2 linked regions of the Homo sapiens genome follow. The protein of the gene in region 1 interacts with the protein of each later gene in a pairwise test. Each region holds a gene or a part of one and is shown on either strand. Other genes may lie near its edges. The genes, in order: SOX30 and FLI1.

Region 1 (7,868 bases):
TCATATCAGAATTATAAGACTTTTAAAAATAATTTTCAATATATACCAATAATACATTTATACAATTACAGCCCCCAAAAATCCAAACACCATTTTACATTTGATAATGCTTCCTGTGTGGTTTTTGTACCAAATAAGCCAAATGTGACTCTTGCATTAGTGCATTATTGATGACAAACCCAATTCTTTATAAAACCTTATAGACAAATGTATTCAATCTTAATCAGTTTGACTATAAGGTAAGATTCTCACAAACCTTTTATAACCCTTTACATATTTTTGTTAAAGAGCAAATCATAGCAGGTTTTTGCTCTAAAAAAACTTGTGCTTTTATTCCAATGTTTAATTTATAGAAAAACTGAATACCCCTTTAACTTTAACTAATATATTCACACACAGAATGTCCTACAATTAATTTTTCACACTTTCCAAAACTTTCTTAAACCTTCAGCTTCATTCTATCTAACTTAAAACAATAATTTAACCATTTAATCTAAGGAAGAAAATTTACATTCTCATGACTTCTAATGATCTTTTACCAAAAACACATTTCACTTTCCTTACACACCTTATGTGTAGAACTATTCTTCAGTAGTCTCAATTACATGTTACAATGTTAACTTTCAGCGATTTTTACTTTTGGTGAAAACCCTGGTTGGTAAGCATTTTAATTATGTACTAGGTGTGCAGCCTAGGACACAGACAGAAGTGCAGATAAGGTCTGACTTTTTCTAGCATTGCTTGGGGTATGGCTAACATCACATGTCCCCAGGCCTTATCTAGACTCTAATATGGTCAAAGTAGGTAAATTAAACAATTTTCAAAAGTGAAAGCAGCAGCTTATGAACTTAAAGCATTTAGCAAACCTAATATCTGACCTGCATAATTTAGACCAAATGTTTACATTTTAAGATATTTTTATTTTACCAATAATCTTTAAAACTGTCTTCATTTCCCAAAGATTACTTAAGTCACATGAACTATATAAAAGGCATTATATGTTTAATTTTTCTCACAAAAATATGACTGAAGCACTTATTATTTTTAACCGATTAATCAAACCTCTGTTATATACAAGCACCACACACATGATACACATAAATACACAGACAAAAGATAAAGGACTCATCTCCTAAGATGGGAATTGAACCCTGAACCCGGGCCACCACTGTGAAAGAGAAAGCACAGCCACATGGTTACAAGGTCAAGCTCCCAAGGACATACAAGACAAGAGGGAAACCTCATCCAGTTTTTTTCACGGACCTGCAGCAAAGTTTTTAACTGACCAGTTTGCTGGGCCATCTTGAACAGCAGGCTTATAGGTGTCCTAAGCCCATGTTCTATCCTAAGGTACCCCTCTTTATGACAGAACAATACAGAATGACACAGGAAACACACCAGATTGGCTACAGCTTAAGACTAGCCTCACAAATCCTTTCTTCCATTAATCAAAACTTTGTAAGAAATAGTGATTTTTACCATTCCTACAACCAGTTTGCACAGAGAGAGACGACAGCATTGCCTGAGGCAAGGTGGGGAAGGCCAGGCGTTCAGGGAAGCCACAGAAAGATCCACCCACTGCAGCGACAGTGAAGAGTTCAGGTGGCCACTTCTCGGTAGTGAAGGGATGTTTTCCAGCAGTCCCATCGACTCTCAAGTTTCCCCTTTACGGGAGGAAAAAGCTCCTCATGTCCCATGATCCTGTACCTGCCTAACCCTGTCATCCGCATCCATCAGCAAAGAGTACAAGGCAGATTATTCCAAGGAGAATAGAAGTTAACATACCGTAGTGCCAAACCTGTTCTTAGCCAAAGGGGACTTTACCGAGAGGGGCTTCTAGCCCCCTAAATCTTAGAAGGGACTCTAACCCTCCTAAGTTGGGCTTCTAACCCAATCCCATTCTTTATCTGGGTACCCCACCACTTATCCAAAATTGTCCAATCAGTGCTATAGTCTATTTCCTTTGAGTCAGGAGTCTCCTAAGTATCGTCCCTTTAGGGTTCACCAGAAAGATGTTACCGGACCCCACCACTTACCCAAAGTTAGCCTTTGGGTCGGGGTTTCCATACTGCAGTCCATTCCATAGTTGCCAGAAAGATGTTACAGGACCTCACCACTTACTGGGGGCTTACACACTATAATCCCACCTGGGTCACCAGAAAGAAGTTACAGGAAAGGGGTCCAGATCCAGACCCCAAAAGAGGGTTCTTGGATCTCGCACAAGGAAGAATTCAGAGCGAGTCCATAAAGTAAAGTGAAAGCGAGTTTATTAAGAAAGTAAAGGAATAAAATAATGGCTACTCCATAGACTGAGCAACCCCAAGGGCTGCTGGTTGCCCATTTTTATGGTTATTTCTTGATGATAAGCTAAACAAGGGGTGGATTTTTCATGCCTCCCCTTTTTAGACCATATAGGATAACTTCCTGACATTGCAGTGGCATCTGTAAGCTGTCATGCTGCCAGTGTGAGTGTAGTAGTGAGGATGACAAGAGGTAATTCTCATCACCATCTTGGTTTTTGTGGGTTTTAGCCAGCTTCTTTATTGCAACCCGTTTTATCAGCAAGGTTTTTATGACCTGTACTTTGTGCCAGCCTCCTATCTCATCCTGTGACTTAGAATGCCTTAACTGTCTGGGAATGCGACCCAGTATGTTTCAGCCTCATTTTACCCAGCACCTACTCAAGATGGAGGTGCTCTGGTTCACACACCTCTGACAACTTATTTGCCTCTTTTATCAGCTTTTGCTCATGCATACAGTTGCCTCTCCCATTTAAACCCTAGTACAGTGGTTCTCAAAGTGTGGTATGGGGACTGACACTTACAGAGTCAGCTAGGTTAAAACTATTTTCATAATAATCCTAATGTAATATTTGCTCTTTTCACTTCATTCTCTTGTGAGCATAAGGTGGGGAAAATATAATTTTTTCCTATGAAAATGTGTTACCACAGAATGGTTTTATTGTTGACGTTTTAAATGAGTTGCTATCTTTAAAATTTGTTTTTATTTACAACATGGTAAATATTGATAGATGAAATCCACATGAACAAAAGCTTTTTTGGGATCTTCAATAGTTTTTTTTTTTTTTTTTGAGACAGGGTCTTGCTCTGTTGCCCAGGCTGGAGTGCAGTGGCACGATCTCGGCTCCTGCAACCTCTGCCTCCCAGGTTCAAGCGATTCTCCTGCCTCAGCCTCCCGAGTAGCTGGAATTACAGGCATGTGCCACCATGCCCAACTAATTTTTTATTTTTAGTAGAGACGAGGTTCCACCATGTTGGCCAGGCTGGTCTCGAACTCCTGACCTCAAGTGATCCGCCTGCCTCAGCCTCCCAAAGTGCTGGGATTACAGGAGTGAGCCACCACGCCCAGCCCAGGATCTTCAATAGTTTTTATGGGTATAATGAGTTCTTGAGATAAAAGTTTGAAAACCATTGCCCTTGTCTATCTGCCAGGTATAAGAACTCCTACTGACCACATTTGTTACCAGAGGATTGGACAATAAATTGGAGTGGTCTTTGAGTGATAACTTGTCTTGATTGCAAAAATCATCTACGTCAAGATAAACTATAGTTTTTGGCCAGAATGTCATTTAGAAATGCAGCAAATGTTAATACAGGATTTCTTTTTGTTTTTCTTGGTGATGTTTAATGGAAATAAACACAATCCTACTAAAAGGAGAAACATAAACATGGAAAGGATTTGGAACAGTGTCTAGCATAAGAGTAAGCCCTTAACACAGGTAGTGATTATTACTATTTTATTATTACCCTATCACAGTCGCTATTCATTTATTTATTCAACAAGTATTTATTGAGTACTATATGCCAGGCTCAATGGTCTGCATTGTGGATTCAGTGATGGGCAAAACACAAACTGTTCTGCCTTCAAGGACTTTATAGTCTAAAGTGGGAGAGGCAGTGGAATCATCACATGAAAATTCTAATTACAAATTGTGGTAAGCAAACCAAGTGATAGAGGTATAAGTAGACCAAGATTTTATCTGATTTTCAGAGTCAGTAAAAGCTTCTCTGAAGAAGTCCCAGTTGAGCTGCAATATGAAAAATGTGCAGGAGGAATTAAGGAGACACAAAGGAAAGAGTAGCATGCTGAGCATGTTTAAACACCCTGCAGTAGAAAGAGAATGATGATGGGGCCAATGTGGCTGAAACCCAAAGACTCAATAACTATTTAATGGCAAAAACCACAATTACTTTTGCACCAATCTAATAGTAGCAGTAGTAGGAGGTTAGATCCCAAGCCACTGGGGGATTTTTAAGGCTTTGCTAAGAATTTTAGACTTTCATTACATTATCAGTGGGGAGCCATGGAAAGTTTAGGAAAAGTGTGACAACCTTAGATTTGCGTTTTCGAAAGATCACTGGCAGCTGGAGTGTAGTGGGGCAAGGGTGACAAGCAGGGAGACTATTTACAGGGTTACGGCAGTATCCCAGTGAAAGATGCTGGGAGCCTGGAACAGGATAATGGCAGGTAGAGACACAAAACAGTGGATGAATTTGGGATGTATAGTATTTTGGAAGTAGGGCCACAGGGCCTGGTGATTAATTGAAACTTTAGCACAATAATCACACAAAGTCGAAGATCCTCCCCAGCAACATTAGCTAATAGGTTATTGATAAGTTGCAAAATCTTCCCCATTCTCCCTTGGCAAAGATTCAAAAGCCCTGGTGGTACTCAGGGCCGACAGATTACTCAGGCCGCACAGAGCGCGTGCACAAGGCCGTCGCTCCCCTTGTGACGCAAGACTTCATTCCCTGGATGTCAGCGGCCTGGAAGCGCAACGTTTCCTGGGCAACGCCATTGTCGCAGCTCCGGGTGGGGGAGGGATGACTAAAGACAACGGCTGTAAGAGAACTCCACAAGAGAGTCAGAACGAAAATGTGCAACAAGTGCGGCGGCTCCTACCATGGCAGGTGATTCGAGGACTCAGCACGAGGCGAGAGTAGGGACCAGGAAGAGCCGGAAAACCCGCCTGTGATTGGCCGTCCACGGGTATCGGTCGTTGTGATTGGGTGAGGCCCAGACAGACAGCTGCGTTTTGAACCGCGTAGGGTTCTGGGTAGCAAAGGCCTTGCAAGGCTCTTAACCGAAAGGGGGAGGGGGAAGGTCGCCAACAAACGGCTGAGCTCACAATCCTGGCCGGGGCGTCCCCCTCCCCCATGGAGAGAGCCAGACCCGAGCCGCCGCCTCAGCCGCGCCCGTTGCGTCCCGCTCCGCCCCCGCTGCCGGTCGAGGGCACCTCCTTTTGGGCAGCAGCCATGGAGCCCCCTCCGTCGTCTCCCACACTGAGCGCGGCAGCCAGTGCGACCTTGGCCTCGTCGTGCGGGGAGGCAGTGGCGTCCGGCTTACAGCCCGCGGTGCGGCGGCTGCTGCAGGTGAAGCCAGAGCAGGTGTTGCTGCTACCACAGCCTCAGGCCCAGAACGAGGAAGCCGCTGCCTCGTCCGCGCAGGCGCGGCTGTTGCAGTTCAGGCCCGACCTGCGGCTCCTGCAGCCGCCGACAGCGTCAGACGGCGCCACCTCCAGGCCCGAGTTGCACCCGGTGCAGCCCCTGGCGCTGCATGTCAAGGCCAAGAAGCAGAAGCTGGGGCCCAGCCTGGATCAGTCAGTGGGGCCTCGAGGGGCCGTCGAAACCGGTCCTAGAGCCTCCAGGGTGGTCAAGTTGGAAGGCCCCGGGCCGGCCCTCGGCTACTTCCGAGGGGACGAGAAGGGCAAGCTGGAGGCGGAGGAGGTCATGAGAGACTCGATGCAAGGCGGGGCAGGCAAAAGCCCGGCAGCCATCCGAGAAGGTGTGATCAAAACGGAGGAACCCGAGAGACTCCTCGAGGACTGCAGGCTCGGCGCGGAGCCCGCGTCCAATGGCCTGGTTCATGGCAGCGCGGAGGTCATCTTGGCCCCAACGTCCGGTGCCTTTGGGCCGCACCAGCAAGACCTTAGGATCCCTTTGACGCTCCACACGGTCCCCCCTGGGGCCCGGATCCAGTTTCAGGGAGCTCCGCCTTCAGAGCTGATAAGATTGACCAAGGTCCCCCTGACACCAGTGCCTACTAAAATGCAGTCCCTACTGGAGCCTTCTGTAAAAATTGAAACCAAAGATGTCCCGCTCACCGTGTTGCCCTCAGATGCAGGTATTAGACAGCAGGGGAGTCGGGTTTTCAAAACTGCGTCTGTGTTGCCCATAGCTGTTTTGTCAGCAGTTCCCAAGTCTAAACTACAAAAGTAAAGTAATGGAACTGATTGTTTTCAGGGCAGAGTCTGCACAGGTATCACTTCTGATCGACTTGTACATATAGCAGTAAAATACACGAATGCCTTCAAGATTCTCAAGTATTTTTTAAAAAATCGATTTTAAGGCCCAGTATTTAGATAGGACTAATTTTTGTACACAAAAATAGAAATATTCTTGCTAGACAGCGCATAGCCCTCAGTTTATATGCTACAAATAATCAAGATTAAAAATATTGTAGTATAACAGCTCAGTACTTTTATATGTATCAAGAAATAGAAGAAATAATGGTGTTGAATGAAAAAAGTGATTATAATTAAACAGGAAAGTTTATACCGATTATAGAGGCTATCTTTAAAAATGAATAATAAATATTCTAGCAGAAAACAATACGTGATTCAATGTAATATTTTAGGGTTTATTCCTCTGAAAGGTAATGACTTATAGAAATATTGAAAAGAATACAGTAGAATGAGCCATAAATATTATTTTTAAAGAAATGACTAGTTGCAGCAGTAACAAGTACAAATAATGTTTTTATTTCTATTCAGTATTTCCAGATATATAGTTAGCAAATTCTTATTTTAAGATTTAGTTCACACAGAACACTTTGCCAATGAACATCTTGGAAAGTCATATTAATCTTTGGTTCATATTTTTATTAACTTTATGTTTTATTGTTTTTTTAATTTTCTGTGTTGATTCTTCCTCTCCACTCCACCCTGTTGCTTTTATCTTTAGTAGTTTTTAGATTTTATTTTTGTTTTCTAAAGGAAAGAAAGGGAAAGCTTTCTTTATACTACTTATTTCATCTTTAGTGTTTTTAAGAAATTTTTAATATATGAAGTAATCCTAAAATAATATAATAAATTTATGGACAGTTATTTTTGATAAAATACATGAGAGATGTGAATTTAGATAACTTCCTTTGTTGAAATTTCAACTGGCTCTGTGACTTTCTTTTTTTAAATTTTATTTTATGAAAAAGAGATGCTGGTCTCGAACTCCTGGGATGAAGCAGTCCTCCGCCTTGGCCTCCCAAAGTACTGAGGTTACAGGTGTGAGCCATTGTGGCTGCCTTCTCTGACTTTCAAAAAAATTACTTTTATTATTTTCTGTCATTTTTTTTCTGAAATATTGGCAGAGAGGTTCTAGGAATGAAGGTCAGAAGCAAGTGTGAGCCATTTTACCTGCCTTCTGTGACTTTCAAAAAATTATTTTTTTGAGACTGAGTCTCACTCTGTTGCCCAGTCTGGAGTACCGTGGCGTGATCTCAGCTCGCTGCAACCTCCACCTCCTGGGTTCAAGCGATTCTCCTGCCTCAGCCTCCTAGGTAGCTGGGACTACAGGCATGAGCAACCACGCCTGGCTAATTTTTGTATTTTCAGTAGAGATGGGGTTTCATCATGTTGGCCAGGCTGGTCTCAAACTCCTGACCTCGCGTGATCCACCTGCCTTGGCCTCCCAAAGTGCTGGGATTACAGGCGTGAGCCACCGTACCTGGCCCAAAAAATTATTTTTATTGTTTTCTTTCATTTTTCTCCCAGGACACAGGACTAGTGTTGATGATTCCACTTGGTAAGAGCTTCACCTTCGTAGTGAAATACAACTAATATAGTATTACAA
Region 2 (4,986 bases), on another chromosome or scaffold:
TGCTTTGGGTAATGACAACATAATCTGCACATTTTAGATGCCAAAATAAGAAAAAGTAATCCTGTTCCTATTCTTTGTTCTTTCTGTAATTATTGAGATGAAGACCACAAATGTCATCAAGATCTTTGAGATCTGCAAATAAAAGCAGTAAAGTTTTCTGAAATCAGTCTTTCCTGTGATCTTGAAATAAAAGTATAAACCCTTATGGTTTTCTTATGGTTGGTACGGTTGTCATATTTTTTAAAAACACTGAAGCAAATTTCCTTTTTTATTTCCTTAGATCCGTATCAGATCCTGGGCCCGACCAGCAGTCGCCTAGCCAACCCTGGTGAGTTTACCTTGGCCTGCAAGCCTTTTTTGCCAGAATGTTTCGTAGCTTTGTGAAATCACAGAGACTTCTGTCCTAAGTCCAGACACCTGAGTGGGGAGTAACATGCACGTCTTTCCTTGAAATGTTCAATGTCTGTTTCTGGAGCATGTGAACAACAGGTCAGGGCTTGTTATGAGGTGTCAAGGTTGGTTAGCTGAGGATACTTCTAGGAATAAACACATCAGCACTGCACATGTGCACTTAGGTGTAGATGAGTAATAAGTGGCACAGGTAGGTAGGCGTTTCAATCAGAGAAAATGGGCAAGAAAGAAAAGAAGACAACTCCACTCAGCTCTCAGTTGTCTCCCGCATGCCAGGCACAAGTTCATAAATATTCCAAAGGGTTTTATTTGTGATTTTAGAAAGTGTTGCCAAGTTATCTGGCCTTATAAAAGAGATGTGTCCTGGAAAAGTTGCAGATATAGTCAATTTGACCTTGTACTTTAAAGATTTAGTATCAAAAATAACTCTCAAGAGGGTCCTTCTAAACCAAGTCCATCGAGATTGGGAGCTAGCAGGCCCTTGTCGCAGTGTGGCCCACTCACCTTCCCATCCCAGGGACTCTGCCTACCCATTCCTTAGTGCCTGGTCATTACTGCCAGAGGAGAAAGCAGCCACCCAGCATATTCTGGGTATTTTTCTCTCTGCACAAGTTCTCTGTAGAACTTAGAGCTGCAAGCCAAGCTCTGGGCCTGCCAAGGGCCAATCCAGGTCCTGTCCATCCAAAAGCTAAAGCTCATGGCGCAGCTTCTCCCAATGACTCCCACAGTCATGCCTTGCCCCTGACTTTTTATTGCTGACAGGGAATTCCCTGGGGGACATGACCACTAATTAGAGATCAGTCAGTGATTCAGGCCTTTCTAGATGAAGAGATTCAAAAGCCTTGCCAAAGGGATTGAGGGGGGATATGGCTCACCCAAGATCACACAGCTAGTTCTGGGCAGAGTTTGCACCTCACTTCCCACATTCCATTTACCAGGCCTTGGGGCAAAGCATCTTAGGATCTAACCTCGCTTATTATACCCATCTCCAAGGCAAGCAGAAAGGCAAATCAACAATGACATAAGAAGGGCTTGTCAAGTCGATCCCAATGTCGAAGGAAACAAAAGGTTTCTTTAAAAGGATGAGAAGCTCCCTGCATTTAGGGAACTGGGTTCTGCCTTCTCTGGGCTGAGGTGTTCTGTTCTCTCCCGTTTGCCTCACGGCGTGCAGGAAGCGGGCAGATCCAGCTGTGGCAATTCCTCCTGGAGCTGCTCTCCGACAGCGCCAACGCCAGCTGTATCACCTGGGAGGGGACCAACGGGGAGTTCAAAATGACGGACCCCGATGAGGTGGCCAGGCGCTGGGGCGAGCGGAAAAGCAAGCCCAACATGAATTACGACAAGCTGAGCCGGGCCCTCCGTTATTACTATGATAAAAACATTATGACCAAAGTGCACGGCAAAAGATATGCTTACAAATTTGACTTCCACGGCATTGCCCAGGCTCTGCAGCCACATCCGACCGAGTCGTCCATGTACAAGTACCCTTCTGACATCTCCTACATGCCTTCCTACCATGCCCACCAGCAGAAGGTGAACTTTGTCCCTCCCCATCCATCCTCCATGCCTGTCACTTCCTCCAGCTTCTTTGGAGCCGCATCACAATACTGGACCTCCCCCACGGGGGGAATCTACCCCAACCCCAACGTCCCCCGCCATCCTAACACCCACGTGCCTTCACACTTAGGCAGCTACTACTAGAAGCTTACTCATCAGTGGCCTTCTAGCTGAAGCCCATCCTGCACACTTACTGGATGCTTTGGACTCAACAGGACATATGTGGCCTTGAAGGGAAGACAAAACTGGATGTTCTTTCTTGTTGGATAGAACCTTTGTATTTGTTCTTTAAAAACATTTTTTTTAATGTTGGTAACTTTTGCTTCCTCTACCTGAACAAAGAGATGAATAATTCCATGGGCCAGTATGCCAGTTTGAATTCTCAGTCTCCTAGCATCTTGTGAGTTGCATATTAAGATTACTGGAATGGTTAAGTCATGGTTCTGAGAAAGAAGCTGTACGTTTTCTTTATGTTTTTATGACCAAAGCAGTTTCTTGTCAATACACGGGGTTCAGTATGACACAGAATCATGGACTTAACCCGTCATGTTCTGGTTTGAGATTTAGTGACAAATAGAGGTGGGAAGCTTATAATCTAATTTTAGGAGGACCAAATTCAGTGGATGGCAACTGGAACATTGATTGTAAGGCCAGTGAAGTTTTCACCCAACTGGAATTTGATGGAAAGAAGGTTTGTGTGTTTAAGACGCCAAGGGCATTGCAGAATCCCTCTCAGTGGACAGTATGCACTCAGCTGACCACTCTCTCTAGAAATAGTCAAGATATGAACTAAGAAATTTTAATGCAAATACATACATTCCTGAAAGACGGGGAATTAAATTACTAATTTTTTTTTTTTTTTAAATGATGACAGTGGTCCCAGAACTTGGAAAAGTTGTAGGGATTTCTAAACTCAAGCAGATTCGCAAGTGCTGTGCGCTTGTCAGACCATCAGACCAGGGCCAACCAATCAGAAGGCAACTTACTGTATAAATTATGCAGAGTTATTTTCCTATATCTCACAGTATTAAAAATAAATAATTAAAAATTAAGAATAAATAAACGAGTTGACCTCGGTCACAAAAGCAGTTTTACTATCGAATCAATCGCTGTTATTTTTTTTAATGTAATTTGTACATCTTTTTTCAATCTGTACATTTGGGCTGTCTGTATGTTTTTATAGCTGGTTTTTAAAAAGCATAATATGCCTATAGCTGAAAAGGAAACAGGGCTGTTTAAGTCACTGACTTATGAGAAAGCAAAGCACTGGTACAGTTATTTAACAGGCATACACAAGCAGGGAAAAGATAATCCATTTAGATCTTTAATGCTTTGGAAATGCGTGTAACAGTACTGCAATAATCACAGCTCTGGGAAAAACAACGAAACTTTCCCTTGTGGAGAGGAGGGATTTTCCTGCTCTATATAAGCAACATATTTTTAGACATTAAAATATATATAATTTTGCAGGTAATTGTTGACTTTTTTAACTATATTAAGTGTTAAGCTGACAACTGTCAAAGAAGACCATGTTGTAAAATAATTTGACTAAATAAATGGTTCCTTCTCTCAGTGCTGAGGACAGTTTTCTTATTTACCGCCCCCGTTAGGTCAAAGGGTTTTCCCTGGGGAACTTTCCTATTTACTTCTTGCACTATCAAGAATTTTTCGAATGTACCTACTGCAGTACAGCAGAAGGTAAAAAATCAGTGTGGTTTTTCATTGTTGTTGATGATGTTTGTAGTGTTTTTGTGTGTGTTATTTAAATCTTCCTCCAGCCTAAAAGGGTTTTATAAAACAGCAGCTAAGGCCATGGATAAACCTGTATGTAAGGACTGGAGCAAAGCGAGCTGGTCTATCCAGACTGGTCTGTGAGATTTAACTCTGCAGCCTCCCCTGGGCACTTCAGACCCAGACGGCCACCTTCTGCCACTCCAGCAAAGAATAAGCGCCCTGCTTCCTTCAGGTCTCAGACCAGGACTTTATGGCTCATGCAGATTTTTAAGGTCATTTTTCTTCCCAAGGAAGAAACTTGCCTCCAGTTCCTTCACTGTTAGGTAGCTTATTTTCATTTTCTCTATTTTACAATGAAAAGAGTGAGACCTGGGAAGTCCTTGATTTGCAAGGAATTAGACTCACAGCATTGGTAACCCTAGAACCTTCTTAGGGTAACACTAAGTACCTTCTAGACAACATGTCTACCTAAATGAAATGGGATGTGTTTCGGAACATTTGTCTCCAGTTTTTTTTTAATCTTGCACCCTGCCATTTAAAAAGATGTGTAAAGCACATATTCTCAACATATGCACATTGATTTATAAATCATATATACAAACTGTTACATTATTCTTCATATTAGAAAACAAATACAAAATAGAACATTTTAAATGGTGATATAAAAATAAATTGAAACTGAAATTCTACTCTTTTCCTCCTATTTTCTCTATATTGAATATCCTCTGCTATTAACTCTCAAAACAAAGATGTTGGTCTTTAGTGAAAAAAGTGTATGCATGTACTGGATTTCTAGTGACTTCCAAGAAAGGAGAAAATTAAAACTTGGTATTAGTGGCCCAAGCATAGAAAGAGGAATGATGAAGGCCAGGTATGTTTAAGAACAAACTAGCTGAATTCTTTGGCAGATCTCCATCTTAGCCACGCAATTTCCCCATCAATTTTGAAATCTGCAAAGTATTCATTAGGGAAAATGGAGGCATATATTTCTGAGTGCTGTAAGAAGATGCTCAGCCCATTAGTTCATTCTTTTAAAGGTTTTCTTTATGTGTCCTACTCAAACACTGGCTCAGGCTCATCTTCTCTACACAGTCATAGAGCTTTAGCCAAATCTCGCCCCCTGAATATGTTCCACAGTGATTTGTCCTATGCCTCAGAAGCTGGCCCACTGGCTGACAGGACTGGGGCACCATTTTCTCCTCATAAGCATTTGTACAGAGGGGGCACTGGCATTTATTCCCCTGCAATGCCCAGATTGAACGTTTGCTAGCTGGCTCCAGGGCA

Evidence for each region.
Region 2: the proteins of SOX30 (region 1) and FLI1 interact in binary tests that used the Homo sapiens proteins (3 or more experiments, as listed by UniProt).

Annotation. Positions count from the first base shown.
Region 1 is NC_000005.10:157,649,388-157,657,255, reverse strand, and holds the start of SOX30 (transcription factor SOX-30), read left to right. Parts: upstream 1-4,817; 5' UTR 4,818-5,177; coding exon 5,178-6,144; intron 6,145-7,868. UniProt on the Homo sapiens protein: Acts both as a transcriptional activator and a repressor. Binds to the DNA sequence 5'-ACAAT-3' and shows a preference for guanine residues surrounding this core motif. Binds to its own promoter and activates its own transcription.
Region 2 is NC_000011.10:128,808,877-128,813,862, forward strand, and holds the end of FLI1 (Friend leukemia integration 1 transcription factor), read left to right. Parts: intron 1-280; coding exon 281-328; intron 329-1,582; coding exon 1,583-2,112; 3' UTR 2,113-4,391; downstream 4,392-4,986. UniProt on the Homo sapiens protein: Sequence-specific transcriptional activator. Recognizes the DNA sequence 5'-C[CA]GGAAGT-3'.